Regions from separate parts of the Homo sapiens genome. Here all the other regions are reported to be linked to region 2. The links are microRNA targets in miRTarBase. Many come from high-throughput screens and were not tested one by one. Region 2 holds a microRNA gene; each other region holds the end of a gene's coding sequence.

Evidence for each region. Region 2 holds the annotated microRNA hsa-miR-513c-3p (UAAAUUUCACCUUUCUGAGAAGA, at 2,119-2,141, opposite strand). A microRNA usually pairs through its seed, bases 2 to 8, with sites in the 3' UTR of a target mRNA and lowers its output. Matches are read on the target gene's strand: a 7mer-m8 pairs with bases 2 to 8, a 7mer-A1 pairs with bases 2 to 7 and ends in A, and an 8mer does both.
Region 1: the mRNA of SC5D is a reported target of hsa-miR-513c-3p. Seed matches in the 3' UTR shown: 7mer-m8 at 1,676-1,682.
Region 3: the mRNA of SLC25A37 is a reported target of hsa-miR-513c-3p. Seed matches in the 3' UTR shown: 7mer-A1 at 728-734.
Region 4: the mRNA of WDR33 is a reported target of hsa-miR-513c-3p. Seed matches in the 3' UTR shown: 7mer-A1 at 897-903, 7mer-m8 at 920-926, 7mer-A1 at 1,795-1,801, 7mer-A1 at 1,808-1,814 and 7mer-A1 at 2,183-2,189.
Region 5: the mRNA of REEP5 is a reported target of hsa-miR-513c-3p. Seed matches in the 3' UTR shown: 8mer at 1,160-1,167 and 7mer-A1 at 2,377-2,383.

The regions. Positions count from the first base shown.
Region 1 is chr11:121,306,989-121,309,988 of GRCh38, reverse strand. It overlaps SC5D (sterol-C5-desaturase), which reads right to left. Exons shown (of 5, transcript NM_006918.5): 5 at 1-2,932. The coding sequence ends at 2,477. Among named protein-coding and RNA genes, the nearest start is that of SC5D, 16 kb to the right of the region's middle.
Region 2 is chrX:147,187,599-147,192,330 of GRCh38, forward strand. MIR513C (microRNA 513c) reads right to left here and starts at 2,189; the gene lies at 2,106-2,189. The region is part of intron 1 of LOC105373347 (periphilin-1); the gene reads left to right.
Region 3 is chr8:23,571,519-23,574,518 of GRCh38, forward strand. It overlaps SLC25A37 (solute carrier family 25 member 37), which reads left to right. Exons shown (of 4, transcript NM_016612.4): 4 at 1-3,000. The coding sequence ends at 337. Among named protein-coding and RNA genes, the nearest start is that of SLC25A37, 44 kb to the left of the region's middle.
Region 4 is chr2:127,703,923-127,706,922 of GRCh38, reverse strand. It overlaps WDR33 (WD repeat domain 33), which reads left to right. Exons shown (of 22, transcript NM_018383.5): 22 at 371-3,000. The coding sequence ends at 600. It overlaps SFT2D3 (SFT2 domain containing 3), which reads right to left. Exons shown (of 1, transcript NM_032740.4): 1 at 1,681-3,000. Among named protein-coding and RNA genes, the nearest start is that of SFT2D3, 3.9 kb to the right of the region's middle.
Region 5 is chr5:112,876,189-112,879,188 of GRCh38, reverse strand. It overlaps REEP5 (receptor accessory protein 5), which reads left to right. Exons shown (of 5, transcript NM_005669.5): 5 at 354-2,804. The coding sequence ends at 403. It also overlaps a transcript of SRP19 not described here. Among named protein-coding and RNA genes, the nearest start is that of SRP19, 16 kb to the right of the region's middle.

The sequences.
Region 1 (3,000 bases), not on the chromosome of region 2:
CATGGAAGACAAAGACTCAGTCTCTGTGTTTCTGAAAGGTCTTCTCGAACCATATCCACCCACTTCTCAATTTCTACCACAAAAGTAGAAAACGTAACCTTGATTTTCACTTTCTGTCCTGTAACTATAAAAGTCATCTGTAGAAGGTAATTTGGGTCCTCACTTCCATAAATATTCTCTGACTTCCTCTAATAGAAAGTAGGAGAATGTGGCAGTACTGTATATTACAATGTTAGGACTACTTAACATAACGCTGCTTTAAAAGACCAGAATTTGAGACGGGTGAAAGGGCAGGGGCAAGTTTGATTATTCCTAACATCTATGAGGAAGCCTCTGTCTTCCCCATAGGAAGCTGTCCTTTCTTCTCTATTAGTTATATAGGAATAAGAATCTAGAGGAAGCTTTAAACATTCATATTGGAGTTAAGAATTAAAGACACTGAGATGATTAGTGTGTGGATAACCTGAAATACTTTATGGCTCATTCACCATTTCAACATCAACAAGAGGAGAACACCACAAATACGGCAAACTGTCTAGCTGCTCAAGAAAATGGTGCCCCCTTCCTCCCAGGCACACAGCTGGACACATTTCCCAAAATCTCTCTAGGTGGGCCATGTGACGGAGTTCTGTCCAAAGGAACATGGGCGGAAGAGATATGCACCACTTCCAGGCCTGACCCAGAAACATTTTCCACACAGACTTTTCCTTCTTTTCCTATGTGCTCTTTCAACAAAGAGGGCTCTATGGACTGAGAGAAAGGCAGAGCCCCAAGAGGAAGGAGCCTGGGTCGCAGAAAGACTAGGTGGAAAGCTGTCCACTGACCACAAACATCCACATGGGACATCATATGAGAGAGAAATAAACCTGGGAATAGTTACTTAACTTCTTTGGGTCCTAGTCTCTGGGCAAAGAGGAAAAGCTCAATAAATATCAGCTGACATTATATTAGGAAATAAAGTTTACTTCTCCTTAATTTCTTTTTCTTAGGCAAGGCGGAGCACCGGGGGTGAGTGGGATTGGTGAAAAGCACTAAATGACATTTGCCTATTACAAAATGCTAATTGGTACATTTAAATAAGATGACATTGTGACAATAACTCACAGATTAAAGACATTTTCTTCTGGATCCCAGACATTAGATTTTAAGACTGATTTCTTGCTAAAAACACTCAAATCTAGTTAAAATGTGAAATATAAACAGAATGTGGTACCCACTTCTTTCCCCCTGTGACACTGAGTGTCCGGGGATGTTCTAAAACACAATTAACAATCCACATCATTTCTGTGGCTTCAAATTGGCACAAAATCTGTACAAAGAATACTTTGTGCTGCTATAATACTCAACTGATACAGTTTAATTATGATCAACTTTTATTGATTTTACATAAATAGCTTATAGAATGCCTTTACAAACTATGTTTTTGCAATATATTTGTTACAACACACATTTCCTTATGAATGTATTTGTTAAATCTTTTTGCAGAGGAAGTAGGGAAAAGTGAGGGGAGAAGAGGAGGAATAAGATTTTAGAACTAATCGTCAGCAATGGGCCTAGGTATTTGGCAATTATTTCCTTTACAAAAAAATTACAGGTTTGTAACTTCAAACATCAAAAGTGTAGTGCATCAATTTAACTAAAAAATCAGTAGTGCCTAATATATTATCTGGGCATCAAATTTCTTTTTTTAAATATATCCAGATTCACATATTTTTACTCTTATTAAATAATGGTTTTAAATAATAATCATCACAATGTTTAGCTACATAATCCCAGATCTGGATTAAATCATGGTGATATCGATATTTTTAAATTCCAATTTATTTGTTAATCAGTAAAATGTAATAGGTGATAGTGTGTCCAGAGAATGAGCCTCCTATGTGTAGGAAGACGATAGTCTTATTACACCTGCTATCAATTAGGTCATTTACATAGCTGCTAATGTATCAGAATTTTTTTCCACACTGATGTAGTACTTTATTCAAGTCAAAACAAGTTATCATTATCATACCAACGTTGAAGAATTAACCATTCCTGAAACAAGAAACAATCTTTACATTAGTATTTCTTGGTTATGGTGCTTAGTCTTGGTATTATTAAGCACAATGATTCTTAATAAACATGGGTGGATGAAGGCAAATGCATATAGCCTAGTCCCCTCAATAATTTATTCTCCATCTTATTTAAAATTGTTGTTGAGGCTATACAAACTACAGATCTGCTGCTAGAAAGATACAAGTTGTCCCCCGAACAACATCTGGCATTTTAAGCATAAGATTAAAGTCCTGGTGTTCACAGCATCTTCTTCTGACCTACCACTAGGATCATTCCTCAGCAGTGCCCACGATGCTGATTTCCAAATGATACCATTTACTATGTATCTTGACTGTATGGATATTATTTTTTCCTTATTAAAAAAAAGAAATACGATGATATTTCCTTCTTTGTCCTTACTTAAGAATAACTGGGCAATAATCTATTCAGTCTTTGTAAACTCTCCATTGAATAATTTTTCATTCTTACAGCCATTTCCTGAATGGCTGCTGCGCTTTCCCTCTGTCATCTCCTTCACATAACTGAGCGGTCCCTTCCCCTCAAAGGATGAAGGATTTTTGAATGAGCCGCCAATCCTATCCCACAAAGTGAAATATTGTCCATAATTATAGTCAAAGAACATATGGTGGTCTGTATGATGAGCTGAGCCATTAATAAATGGCTGTAAGATTTGGGGGACACGAAAATCACCGTCATGAATGGAAATTGTCCAGATATTAACCAAGATGTACAGACTTAAATAAACCACCTTGTGTAATGGAAAGATAAAAGGGTATATATGGTAAGGTAGACTCTGAAGAAAGCCATCAATAGGGTGAAAAGCATGACTTGCAAATGGAGTAGGAATCTTCCAAATATGGTGAGGTTTATGTAGGCGCTGCAGGAGAAAAGGACACAATTAGCACTGCAAACTTTACCCCGTGCAACATTCAACTTAGCTTCTCA
Region 2 (4,732 bases):
TTAATTAGTATTTTTTTTTAGTATATTTACAGTTTTAGCATACAGATGTTTTGGGGTTTCTATTGATACTGTAATAAATTGCCACAGATTTAGTTGTTTACAACAACACAAATTTATTATATTAGAGTCTAAAGGTCAAAAATCTAAATTAGGTTTCTCTTGGCTAAAATGAAGGCATTGGCAGGGCTTTGTTCCTTCTGTTGGCTCTAGAGGAGAATCTACTTGATTGTCTTTAGAAGATTCTAGTTACTTTCTCCATTCTTTGGCTCATGGCCTTTACCTCTACCTCTAGTCAATACTATAGTATTTTGCAATGTTTCTCATTCTAACCACCTTTCTCCAACGTATAAGGGCCCTTGTGATAATGTTGGGCTCACCTAGATAATCTAGGATAATCCCAATCTCAAAATATTTAATAACATCTACAAATTTTCTTCTACAATAAAATATGATGCTTACGAGTTCAGGGGTTACATTGTGAACATTGTTTGGGCGGGGGCTGTTACTCTGCCTACCACAGAGATCTTGTAATTTTTTCTTAGAGTTTCAAATAAATATTTTATGTTCATATTTTATTTTTCAATTAGCTTGATTTAATCATTGCATAATGTACACATATATCAAAACGTCATGTTGTACACCTTAAATATGATTTTTATGTCAGTTAAACCTTAATAAATTGGAAGAAAAAAGGCTGAGTAATACAAAACAGTATTTCACTGAAAAAAAACACAAATACCAGTAAATATACTATTCTTTTGAGAAATCATAACAGAGGTATGATAACAACTAAATTCTCTTTTATTTCATTTTAAGATATCACTTAAAGTTATATAAGTAAACATGCATCACTATAATACAGTTTTAGAAATTATATACTAAAAACAGTTATCACTTTGGAAAATTCTATGTACATACAGTATTGCAAAGTGACAAAATTTTTTTACTGTTCAGAATGTTGCCCCCACCCCAAAAAGATTGTATGTATTCTATTATTACAATGTTTTTCATTATGGAAAAGATACTTCAACTGTTTTTTTTACTTTCAGACATTAATGGTCTTATACATATTCATACATTCTGAATCTAAAAAAACATAAACCAAAATCCTGCCTGTAACCATATAGTAATTGTTTTTTATAGTTTTTCCCTTTCGGTGTTTATGCTGTAGCCTCTGTTTCAGTTGGAATCAAAATTGTATTAATCACTTACTATTTATAACATTTTTTACACATTTCCACAATATAAATAGCTTATTTATAACCTACTTCCCAAACATGTATACTAGATTAATGCTGCAGATGGCCTTACATAGTCTGGTGCTTGTCTTTCTCTTGCATGTTCTCTCTCTCTCTCTCTCCTCTCTCTCTCTCTCTCTCTCTCTCTGTGTGTGTGTGTGTGTGTGTGTGTGTGTGTGTGTGTGTGTGTTTATTTCCCTCTATTTCTCTCCATTAGGTTAAGAGTTAAGCGTCACCAAAAGAAAATGGGGAGAGAAGCCTAGGAGATATCTCTTGAGTATCAATTCTGTCATACCCTTCCATTCTTCAAATATACTCTTAAAAAATGGGGAAAAAAGATAATTAAAAAGGGTGAAATATTCTTGGGTGGACTATGCTTAACCCTTCATAAATTGGTGACTGAAGGCTTTGAAAGGTATTTTAACAGTCAATGAGAAAATGTTTTAGTCTTTGACAGAAAATGGACACTGTGGATCAGCAATGAAGGGACCTGAGAGGCAGGAGAGCCTTTTGGGAGCACTAAAGGACAATCCTTGCAAATGATGACTAGTTGATCAGTGAAAAGAGTTTAGAGAATTGAGGAATCTGGAGTAAAATGTCTCAGCTGACGAAGAATGGCTGTGGCCTCTATACAACGTATTTCTTATTTGAGCCAAGCCTCATTTGGCAAAAGTAGATAAATTCTTAAGGAACCAAAGTGCATGCGTTTTCTCAGGAGTCCACAGTTCTTATGTGTAGTCGTCTAGAAGGCACAAAAAGTTCCTTGAAGTAGCCCAGCACTGAGGAGTGGGTGCACAGGATGCAAAACAGGCATCACCATGCTCGCAGCTACAGCCCCATCCCTAGGGACACCACATATGCAGTGCATGCTGTACATTACTCTTCTCAGAAAGGTGAAATTTATATTTTAGTTCACATAAACGACACCTCCTTGAGAAAGGCACTGTACGCTGAATGGCTGAATGTGGCATCCCAGACCAAATGTTCCCTATTCATGCCGTTTTTATTCAAGTCCCTATAGGTGTATGCCTTCGCATGGCCACCAAGATTTATGCCAAGTAACAATGCAACTTCTAGCCCCTAGCACTCCCCTTTTCACCCTGCCCTGAGTGAGATATTAACATGCAGATTTTTGTTTTGTTTTGAGACGGAATCTGGCCCAGACTGGCATGCATTGGCGTGATCTTGGCTCACTGCAACCTCCGCCTCCCGGGTTCAGGTGATTCTGCCTCAGCCTCCTGAGTAGCTGGGATTAAAGCTGTGCACCACCATGAACAGCTAATTAACACGCCGATTTTTAGGCTGAGCAATGATAGAGCTTTTCACTTCTCCTCTTTTTCAGAGGTGAGTTATCCTTGTCTGAATTATCCCATTGGTTTTCCTGTAATTTTGCTTGTCTCATTAAAAATCCTCAAAGTCTTTGCTATTGTGAATAATGCCGCAATAAACATACGTGTGCATGTGTCTTTATAGCAGCATGATTTATAGTCATTTGGGTTATATACCCAGTAATGGGATGGCTGGGTCAAATGGTATTTCTAGTTCTAGATCCCTGAGGAATCGCCACACTGACTTCCACAATGGTTGAAACCAACCCAAATGTCCAACAATGATAGACTGGATTAAGAAAATGTGGCACATATACACCATGGAATACTATGCAGCCATAAAAAATGATGAGTTCATGTCCTTTGTAGGGACATGGATGAAATTGGAAATCATTCTCAGTAAACTATCGCAAGAACAAAAAACCAAACACTGCATATTCTCACTCATAGGTGGGAATTGAACAATGAGATCACATGGACACAGGAAGGGGAATATCACACTCTGGGGACCGTGGTGGGGTGGGGGGAGGGGGGAGGGATAGCATTGGGAGATATACCTAATGCTAGATGACGAGTTAGTGGGTGCAGCGCACCAGCATGGCACATGTATACATATGTAACTAACCTGCACAATGTGCACATGTACCCTAAAACTTAAAGTGTAATAAAAAAAAAAAAATCCTCAAAGTCAGGCTAGGCTCGGTGGCTCACTCCTGTAATCCCAGCAATTTGGGAGGCCAAGGTGGGCAGATCATCTGAGGTTAGGAGTTCGAGACCATCCTGGACAACGTGGGAAAACTCCCATCTCTACTACAAATACAAAAGATTAGCCCGGCGTAGTGGTGGGCGCCGGTAATCCCAGCTACTCTGGAGGCTGAGGCAGAAGAATCACTTGAACCCAAGAGGCAAAGGTTGTAGTGAGCCAAGGTTGCACCTTTGCACTCCAGCCTGGGCAACAAGAGTGAAAATCTGTCTCAAAAAAATCTTCAGACTCAGCCGGGCATGGTGGCTCATGCCTGAATTCCCAGCTCTTAGGGTGGCCCAGGTGGGGAGATCACTTGAAGCCAGAAGTTTGAGACAATCCTGACCAACATGGTCAAACAAACATGGTAAAACACCATCTCTACTAGAAATACAAAAGTAGCCAGGTGTAGTGGCTTGCACCTGTAATCACAGCTACTCTAAGCTGAGGCAGGAGAATCACTTGAACCAGGAAGGCAGAGGTTGCAGTGAGCAGAGATGGTGCCAATGTACTCTAGCCTGGGTTACAGAGCGAGACCCTGTCTCAAAAAAACAAAAACAAAAAACCCTTAAAATTACAGTTAAGTACAAAGGACCAACCACTCACTAAAGCTTTCTGTTGTCCTAAAACTCCAGCTGTGCTGCACAGACCTAAATTCCAACAGAAAAACCACAGAATACAACCACCTGGATGCAGAGAAGTGCAGAAGAGTCAGAGAAAACTAGGTTAGAGAGAGCAGAAATTTAATTTCTTCTTCAGGCTATGCAGGGGGAAGAATCCATAGAAATTAATACGAGAGAGAGACGAGACAGATAATGGGCTGGAAGACAGGAAATGCTATTCTATTTCTCTTAGCTCCATGGTTCTTTATCGTTCATTTATTGGGGTGCTCTCTCTGTGTGTGTGTGTGTGTGGGCGGGGTGGTGTTATTAATAATTAATAAGATTTTTTAGCTTTAATATTTAGTGTTTGCATTAATATATTTTCCATCTTTTTACTTTTACCCAACTTTCACATAGGTCTTCATATTTAAAATGGGTTTGTTTGACATAGTATATTAGTGGTTTCTTATTTTTATGTAATTTGACAATCTCTGTCTTAATAGAAGCATTTATATCATTTATATTAATACAATTATTTATATATGTGCATTTAAATCTACCGGTTTTCTAGTTGTTTTCTATGTTTCATCCTTTTCTAATTCCTATTTTCCTGTTTTTCTGCCTGATGGCAGACTCAGTATTTTTATCATTCAGTTATATTTTCTGCACTCTTATTAGTTGGTCACTTAAAAAAAGATAGTGGTTGCTCTGGAGTTTCCAGTGTCCATATTTAATTCATCACAGTCTATCTTCAAAGAATATGATCCTACTTTTTGTATAGTTTAAAAATCTTATGATGGTATACTTACAATTCACCCCATC
Region 3 (3,000 bases), not on the chromosome of region 2:
CCCCCACCGGACCTACAACCCGCAGTCCCACATCATCTCAGGCGGGCTGGCCGGGGCCCTCGCCGCGGCCGCCACGACCCCCCTGGACGTCTGTAAGACCCTTCTGAACACTCAGGAGAACGTGGCCCTCTCGCTGGCCAACATCAGCGGCCGGCTGTCGGGTATGGCCAATGCCTTCCGGACGGTGTACCAGCTCAACGGCCTGGCCGGCTACTTCAAAGGCATCCAGGCGCGTGTCATCTACCAGATGCCCTCCACCGCCATTTCTTGGTCTGTCTATGAGTTCTTCAAGTACTTTCTCACCAAGCGCCAGCTGGAAAATCGAGCTCCATACTAAAGGAAGGGATCATAGAATCTTTTCTTAAAGTCATTCTCTGCCTGCATCCAGCCCCTTGCCCTCTCCTCACACGTAGATCATTTTTTTTTTGCAGGGTGCTGCCTATGGGCCCTCTGCTCCCCAATGCCTTAGAGAGAGGAGGGGACGGCACGGCCGCTCACCGGAAGGCTGTGTGCGGGGACATCCGAGGTGGTGGTGGACAGGAAGGACTTGGGAAGGGGAGCGAGAAATTGCTTTTTCTCTTCCTCCCTGGGCAGAATGTAGCTTTTCTGCTTCACTGTGGCAGCCTCCTCCCTGGATCCTTAGATCCCAGAGGAGGGAAGAAAATTTGCAGTGACTGAAAACAGTAAAAAAAAAAAAAAAAAAAAAAAAAAAAAAAAAAAAAAAAAAAAATTTATGTATATAAAAGTTGCATTACACAGTACAAAATAGATGGATAATGTTTATCCTTTATTTTTCTATGTAGAAGTTTTTGAATTTGTGTGTGTGCTTGTGCGTGTCTACACCTAGTATTACGGCTGGGACTCTCCAGCTGTTTTTGTTGTTGTTATGTTTTTAAGAGGGTTGAATTCTTCCATCAGGTGAACGAAAAAGGCAACAAAGTAATAAATCAGTGAATGTGGCCGGCAGCTGTGTTTAGCCCCTCCAGATGGAAGTTTCACTTGAATGTAAAATAATAAAGTTTATATTTTGAATTTCTCTTTTCATGGGGGAAAAAAGGTACGTTAAAAAAATCAAAATAATGATATGTCACTTGCAGCTACCTTTTTTTTTCTTTTAAATTCAATCAGCCACCTTCATGTGCCTTTTTCCTTTGTCTTTCCCCAAAATTCCAGGACCAGAGATCTGGCCCTGGCCTATTTTCTCTTGCTGTGTACACACACGCACACATGCTGGGTGGCAGGATCTCGCCCGCTGGAGGGTGGTGGAGCCCAGTAGAATTGGGGTGACTGGGCATAAACCTGCTGAGACTGCTTCCTTCCCTGGTTGTGAGTGATGTGAATGCCTGCCTTCCCCGGTCAGCACTTAGAAGCCCTTGATAGGCAGCATTTGGCGACTTGTGGGGCAGGTGTTTGGGATAAATCCTACCTTCATCCTAGGACTTATTTCTGCATCAGCCTTTTAACTCAGGCACTTCAGGTAACGTGATCTATGTGTGTTTTGACTGAATCTCATCTCCTGTGTTTCCCTGTGCAGTCTAGGGAAGCATGTCTCCAGTCTTTGTCCCTGTCTTGTCCCAACCATTAATTCTCATGTCACAGCTTCTCACTGCATGTGACAAGAGCCAGGCCTATCTGCTAGGGCCCTGCGGCTGAGGTCTGACCTGGACCCTCATGCCCGAGTCGGAAGACCCCTCTCCAGAAGCCATTCTGCATCCTTGTCTGCTCTGCGTCACCCGAGAACACAGGCTTCGCAGCCTCGCTTTCTGAAATGGTGTGTGCCGAGTCAGATTGCCGCTCAGAGAAAATACAAGCCCGTTTTCCCTAGCTGTGCCATTTGGTGCTCTGCCAGGCTGCCGTGCAAGGGAATACCGACGAGACGAGCTGCACTGTCTCTGATTTGGAGCCCTCACCGGAGCTTGTCTTTAAAAATGAGCAGGAAGCTCATGTATGTTTGCATTTCAGTGAGCCGGGTCCTGACCTGCCGCCACCCATCACGGTCAGCGTGGTGCATCTTACCGAGGAGGCGCAGGCCTGGATTCTTTTGAGTGGTGCTACTGCCTAGGAAGTAACACGTGGAGAATTTCCATCTTGGGACCATGCACACAGTGCCTTGGGGAGTAGATTTTGCCCTAATAGCGATGAAGAATTTTATCAGTCAGTGGAGTTCCTTTTTCAGATCAGGGATGGGAAAGAGCCAAACTGGGTACCTCCCACGTGTGCCCCGTGAACAGCCCTTTGCAGCTGGGCTGTGGGGCTTGGCTGCTGCCCTGTCCCATCTGGCAGTTAACGCCTTCTCCCTGCTCTGCCCCCCACTCCCCAAAACCAGTTGCAGCCTCAACCCACATGGGGATGTAGAAAGCCGTAAAGTCCACGCTACTGTTGAAAATGTTTACATCTCCGCTCTCAACCTGCCTTGGGTTCGTGTTAAATGGTGTTAAATTCTGCAAATGGAGGGGAAAAAAATCAAATTCTAAATTTCAAAGTAGAATTTAAAGCAAATTTGTAAAAAAATTATCCTACCACCCCTTTTGGTCCACTTAAGATATGCCACGCTGAAGCAAGGTATTTCCTACTGGATTTTGCTTTCACTGGTGTTTAGAAAATAAACTTGATTTCTCTAGGAGCACTCCTTTGGTTAGAGGGATGCAAGAAGGAGAGGTGAAGGTGGCGTGTGGTGGCTCATGCCTGTAATCCCAGCACTTTGGGGAGGCCGAGGCAGGCGGATCACTTGAGGCCAGCAGTTTGAGACCAGCCTGGCCAACATGATGAAACCCCATCTCTACTAAAAATACAAAAAATTAGCTGGGCATGGTGGCAGGCACCTGTAATCCCAGTTACTTGGGAGGCTGAGGCAGGAGAATTGCTTGAACCCAGGAGGTGGAGGTTGCAGTGAGCTGAGATTGTGCCACTGCACTTCAGCCTGGGCGACAGAGTGACTCTGTCAAAAAGGAAAGGCAAAAACCGGACCCTGGAGCTCTGTGGGCCCTGATTGCAGGCCCC
Region 4 (3,000 bases), not on the chromosome of region 2:
CCTTCCCTCAATATACCCTGGTGGCTGGGAGCAGGCAGATACACTTCCCATGGCCTGGGACATGGCCCAGTGTGGCCCGGGTCTCCCTGAAGGTGCTCCTTGCTCATCTCTTGGCTTCCTGTCGTCTGTCACACAGCCCTGGGGGCATGGATCTGGCTGATGCTGAGGCCCATGGCCATGAGCCAGGAAGGGGGAGGCAGGGTCAGGAAAGGGTAGAGGCACACCTCTCAGTACGCTGAATACCACTGCCAGTCTCCCTGGCACCCACCAGAACTGGTCCATTGTCATCAGAGAGTAAAGTTTGTACTGGGAGTTACTGACAAACAGTTGCTAATACAAAAAGTCCCATGTGAAATTTTCTTTGTTTCAGGCCGAGGGGGCCCAGGACCTGCTCAGAGAGTGCCCAAATCTGGGCGTTCCAGCTCCTTAGACGGAGAGCACCACGATGGATACCACAGAGATGAACCTTTTGGGGGCCCTCCAGGCAGTGGCACCCCTTCTCGAGGGGGCCGGAGTGGCAGTAACTGGGGTAGAGGGAGTAACATGAACTCTGGCCCGCCGAGGCGAGGAGCTTCACGGGGTGGTGGAAGGGGTCGGTAGAAGCTGGAACTGAGTACCCTGAGGCCTCTCTGGACAGTATGTAAGAACTTCTTGTGGACTCACCAAGAGAAACAAAAGGAAGCCTGCACCATTGTAGCCCTGAACTCTTTTCTGGGCACCTGAATCCCAGGAACCCTCAATGAGGTCTTCAAGATGAAGAGACTGCTGCCAGCTACCAGCCTGGCTGGCCCTGTCCTGTCCACCCTCATTGCCCCAACTCCCATGTTGTTTTGTGAAGATAAAAGCTGGGATCTTTTTCTTTTTTTTAAGTCTCACAAGACATGGGGCATCTCCACAAATTTAAGTTCCTGTCCATTTGGAAATTTGTTTCTATGTGTACAGTTTGTCAGAGAAAAACAAAGTTTTTGTATGAATACAGAATGTGATTTACGCAAGAATTGACAGAAAACTAGTTGTGAAGTGCTTGCCTTAAGGAAACCTTTGGTTTCCATCGCATCCCATCTGCCAAGGAATGCACGGTTGTTGCTGATGTTCATGAGCATATTAACCACTAGGTTATCTAAATTAATCTCAGCTGTGAACTTTGTGTTTTTCAACACATTCTGTCACACCATTTTTGTGACAGAAAAATACTTGAAAATTATTCTAATGTAGTTTGTAGTAGGTTCAAATTTTTATTCAGACATGCTCTGACAGATGGAAAATTGTACTCTGAAGAGAAAATGCAATCTTCTGGATGTCCAACGAGGGAGCTTCCCCTTGGAAGCATCTCCTAAGAATCACAGTTTAGGTTTGAATCGCCTTGTTATGATGAGGAGAGGAACTTGATGTTAGTCAGAAATAAAGTCACATGCCCTTTAGATAACTTGAAATCACACATGGAGTTGATAAGGAATGGACCAAAATAGGTCCTCAAACAATTTTGCAACACTTAATTAAGTTTTCCTCTCTTCCTCTTCCATACTATGTGGAAATACCAGTGTTACGGCAGGGCGTACTTCTAACTCACAGTAAGCCAGATAGATCTTGTCCATGGCAAATTCCTTGTTTAAAATAAACATACCATTTAGCCCAGTTTGGATTGGAAGCCAAAAATTCAGTTTGTTATATACCCCATGATACTTTCTATACTGACCTTTATTTTGGTTTTACATGGAAGCTTTTATTAAAAGGACTGTCCTATGGCCACCTTAACATTTCATTACATTGGCAGCTTCAGTTTTGGCATCAGTCAAATTTATTTGGCAAATTTAGTGGTGCTGGAAGTTTCTTTTTTTCTTTTCCTTTTTTGACAGAGTCTTGCTCTGTCACCCAGCCAGGAGTGCAGTGGTGCAATCACGGCTCACTTCAGCTTTGACCCTGCCTCAGCCTCCCTAGTAGCTAGGACTACAGGCATATGCCACCATGCCCAGCTAATTTTTTGTGTGTGTGTTTTTTGTAGAGATGGAGTTTCACCACTTTGTCTATGCTGGTTTCAAACTCCTGGGCTCAAGCGGTCCACCTGCTGTGGCCTCCCAAAGTGCTGGGATTGCAGATCTGAGCCACAGTACCTGGCCGCTGGTGCTGGAAGTTTCAATGGTTGCTTAGAAAAGGCATACTGATATAGTTTAACAGGATATGAAAATTTAACTGGTTCTCTATGAATGTAAAAAACAGCAAAAGCTAATTGATTTCTGTGGAGTGAGAAAATGTCAGCCATATACACTGCTTTTCAGTGTTAGAATCTAGAGACTATTTTTTTTTTAACTTTGAAATTACAGCTTATTTAATCAGCGCTCCACCATAAACATGCTATTAGGAGGCTCAAGATTGCTTTAGGTTATGGGTATTTCTTCACTCACCCCCAACTGGTATAGCTTAAAGAGAGAGAAACTGTAATCAAATTTCATGAAGCTAAAACCGGATCCAGAGACCAAACCCATATCAAGATTAGACTTTTTTTCCCTGAGATTCTAGTGGAAAAATTTTCATTATTTTGGGCTTTAACTTTAGAAACATAGTATCTCAGTAAGCAGATAACCAGATCACATTTAAAAATTTTCATTTTACCTTGAAGCTCTACTGGACTTGACAGATCACATTTTGAGAGTGAATTCATTTAAACAATAAACCTCTACATTATACTTATTAAATATATATGGCATTTAAAAACATCACTGTCAGCATACATACTAGATGTTGTGATTTGAAGCTTATAAAAAGTAGATTTTCAATGATGTTTGATTTGAGAAAAAATTTTTGAGACAAGGTCTCGCTGTTGCCTAGGCTGTGGTGCAGTGGTGTGATCACAGTTCACTGCAGCCTCAACCTCCTGGGCTCAAGTGATCTTCCCACCTCAGCCCCACCCCAAGTAGCTGGGATCACAGTTGTGTGCCACCATATCTGGCAAATTTTTTGAAGATTTTCTGTGGCGATGGGGTTTAACTGTGTTGCCCAGGC
Region 5 (3,000 bases), not on the chromosome of region 2:
GCACACAGATACAAATAGAATTTGAACACTACTCTTAAGGAATCTCTGCTTCTTTCAATGCTTAAAGGAGAATAGAGGGCAGACAGTTTCGGTGACACTGTCACAACAAGGGGCTAGGCTAGATGACCTTCAAGTATTTTGCTCAAGTATTTAGGATTTGTGCTCTAAGAGGTACCTTCTCCATTTCCTGGAAACCCTCTTAGCCCAGACCACAAACCCCAACATGATCGCACCTGAACATGAGTCATCCAAGTTTTGTTATCTAGTAGCTACATTAGGCACAAAGCTTGCAAGCTTGCATTCCAAAGAAAGAGCTTTGATATATTTTTCTTTCCCTCCTAACAAACAAACAGCGAAGAAAGCTACCGTGAATTTACTGGGTGAAGAAAAGAAGAGCACCTAAACCAGACTGGATGGAAACTTCCTGCCCTCTCTGTACCTTCCTACTGGAGCTTGATGTTATATTAGGGACTGTGGTATAATTATTTTAATAATGTTGCCTTGGAAACATTTTTGAGATATTAAAGATTGGAATGTGTTGTAAGTTTCTTTGCTTACTTTTACTGTCTATATATATAGGGAGCACTTTAAACTTAATGCAGTGGGCAGTGTCCACGTTTTTGGAAAATGTATTTTGCCTCTGGGTAGGAAAAGATGTATGTTGCTATCCTGCAGGAAATATAAACTTAAAATAAAATTATATACCCCACAGGCTGTGTACTTTACTGGGCTCTCCCTGCACGCATTTTCTCTGTAGTTACATTTAGGATAATCTTTATGGTTCTACTTCCTGTAATGTACAATTTTATATAATTCTGAAATGTTTTTAATGTATTTGTGCACATGTACATATGGAAATGTTACTGTCTGACTACAACATGCATCATGCTCATGGGGAGGGAGCAGGGGAAGGTTGTATGTGTCATTTATAACTTCTGTACAGTAAGACCACCTGCCAAAAGCTGGAGGAACCATTGTGCTGGTGTGGTCTACTAAATAATACTTTAGGAAATACGTGATTAATATGCAAGTGAACAAAGTGAGAAATGAAATCGAATGGAGATTGGCCTGGTTGTTTCCGTAGTATATGGCATATGAATACCAGGATAGCTTTATAAAGCAGTTAGTTAGTTAGTTACTCACTCTAGTGATAAATCGGGAAATTTACACACACACACACACACACACACACACACACACACACACAGAGTAACCTGTAACTCTCAATTCCCTGAAAAACTAGTAATACTGTCTTATCTGCTATAAACTTTACATATTTGTCTATTGTCAAGATGCTACAATGGAAACCATTTCTGGTTTTATCTTCAAAGCGGAGAAACATGTTGATTTAGTCTTCTTTCCCAATCTTCTTTTTTAAACCAGTTTAAGGAACTTCTGAAGATTTGTCCACCTCTGATTACATGTATGTTCTTGTTTGTATCATTAGCAACAACATGCTAATGACGACACCTAGCTCTAAGAGCAATTCTGGGAGAATGAAAGGAAGTATAAAGTAACCCATAATCTGCTTGGCAATAGTTAAGTCAATCTATCTTCAGTTTTTCTCTGGCCTTTAAGGTCAAACACAAGAGGCTTCCCTAGTTTACAAGTCAGAGTCACTTGTAGTCCATTTAAATGCCCTCATCCGTATTCTTTGTGTTGATAAGCTGCACATGACTACATAGTAAGTACAGAACAGTAAAGTTAAAACGGATGTCTCCATTGATCTGCCAAATCGTTATAGAGAGCAATTTGTCTGGACTAGAAAATCTGAGTTTTACACCATACTGTTAAGAGTCCTTTTGAATTAAACTCGACTAAAACAAGTGTATAACTAAACTAACAAGATTAAATATCCAGCCAGTACAGTATTTTTTAAGGCAAATAAAGATGATTAGCTCACCTTGAGATAACAATCAGGTAAGATCATAACAATGTCTCATGATGTAAAAAATATTAAAGATATCAATACTAAGTGACAGTATCACTCTAATATAATATGGATCAGAGCATTTATTTTGGGGAGGAAAACAGTGGTGATTACCGGCATTTTATTAAACTTAAAACTTTGTAGAAAGCAAACAAAATTGTTCTTGGGAGAAAATCAACTTTTAGATTAAAAAAATTTTAAGTATCTAGGAGTATTTAAATCCTTTTCCCATAAATAAAAGTACAGTTTTCTTGGTGGCAGAATGAAAATCAGCAACTTCTAGCATATAGACTATATAATCAGATTGACAGCATATAGAATATATTATCAGACAAGATGAGGAGGTACAAAAGTTACTATTGCTCATAATGACTTACAGGCTAAAATTAGTTTTAAAATACTATATTAAATTCTGAATGCAATTTTTTTTTGTTCCCTTGAGACCAAAATTTAAGTTAACTGTTGCTGGCAGTCTAAGTGTAAATGTTAACAGCAGGAGAAGTTAAGAATTGAGCAGTTCTGTTGCATGATTTCCCAAATGAAATACTGCCTTGGCTAGAGTTTGAAAAACTAATTGAGCCTGTGCCTGGCTAGAAAACAAGCGTTTATTTGAATGTGAATAGTGTTTCAAAGGTATGTAGTTACAGAATTCCTACCAAACAGCTTAAATTCTTCAAGAAAGAATTCCTGCAGCAGTTATTCCCTTACCTGAAGGCTTCAATCATTTGGATCAACAACTGCTACTCTCGGGAAGACTCCTCTACTCACAGCTGAAGAAAATGAGCACACCCTTCACACTGTTATCACCTATCCTGAAGATGTGATACACTGAATGGAAATAAATAGATGTAAATAAAATTGAGTTCTCATTTAACTGTTATATTTCATTTTATTTTGTGGGGCTTTTTTCCTAACCCAGAATTATTTAAGGAAAGTTTTAAGTAAATACAGATAAATGAGCCATGAACACTGCTCTTTATTAACTCTATTCCTCACATGGCTTGTAGTTTTCTCCTGGTGGTTCTTGCCTACCAGAGGAAAAGACTTGTCCTAAAGAAAACATACCAACT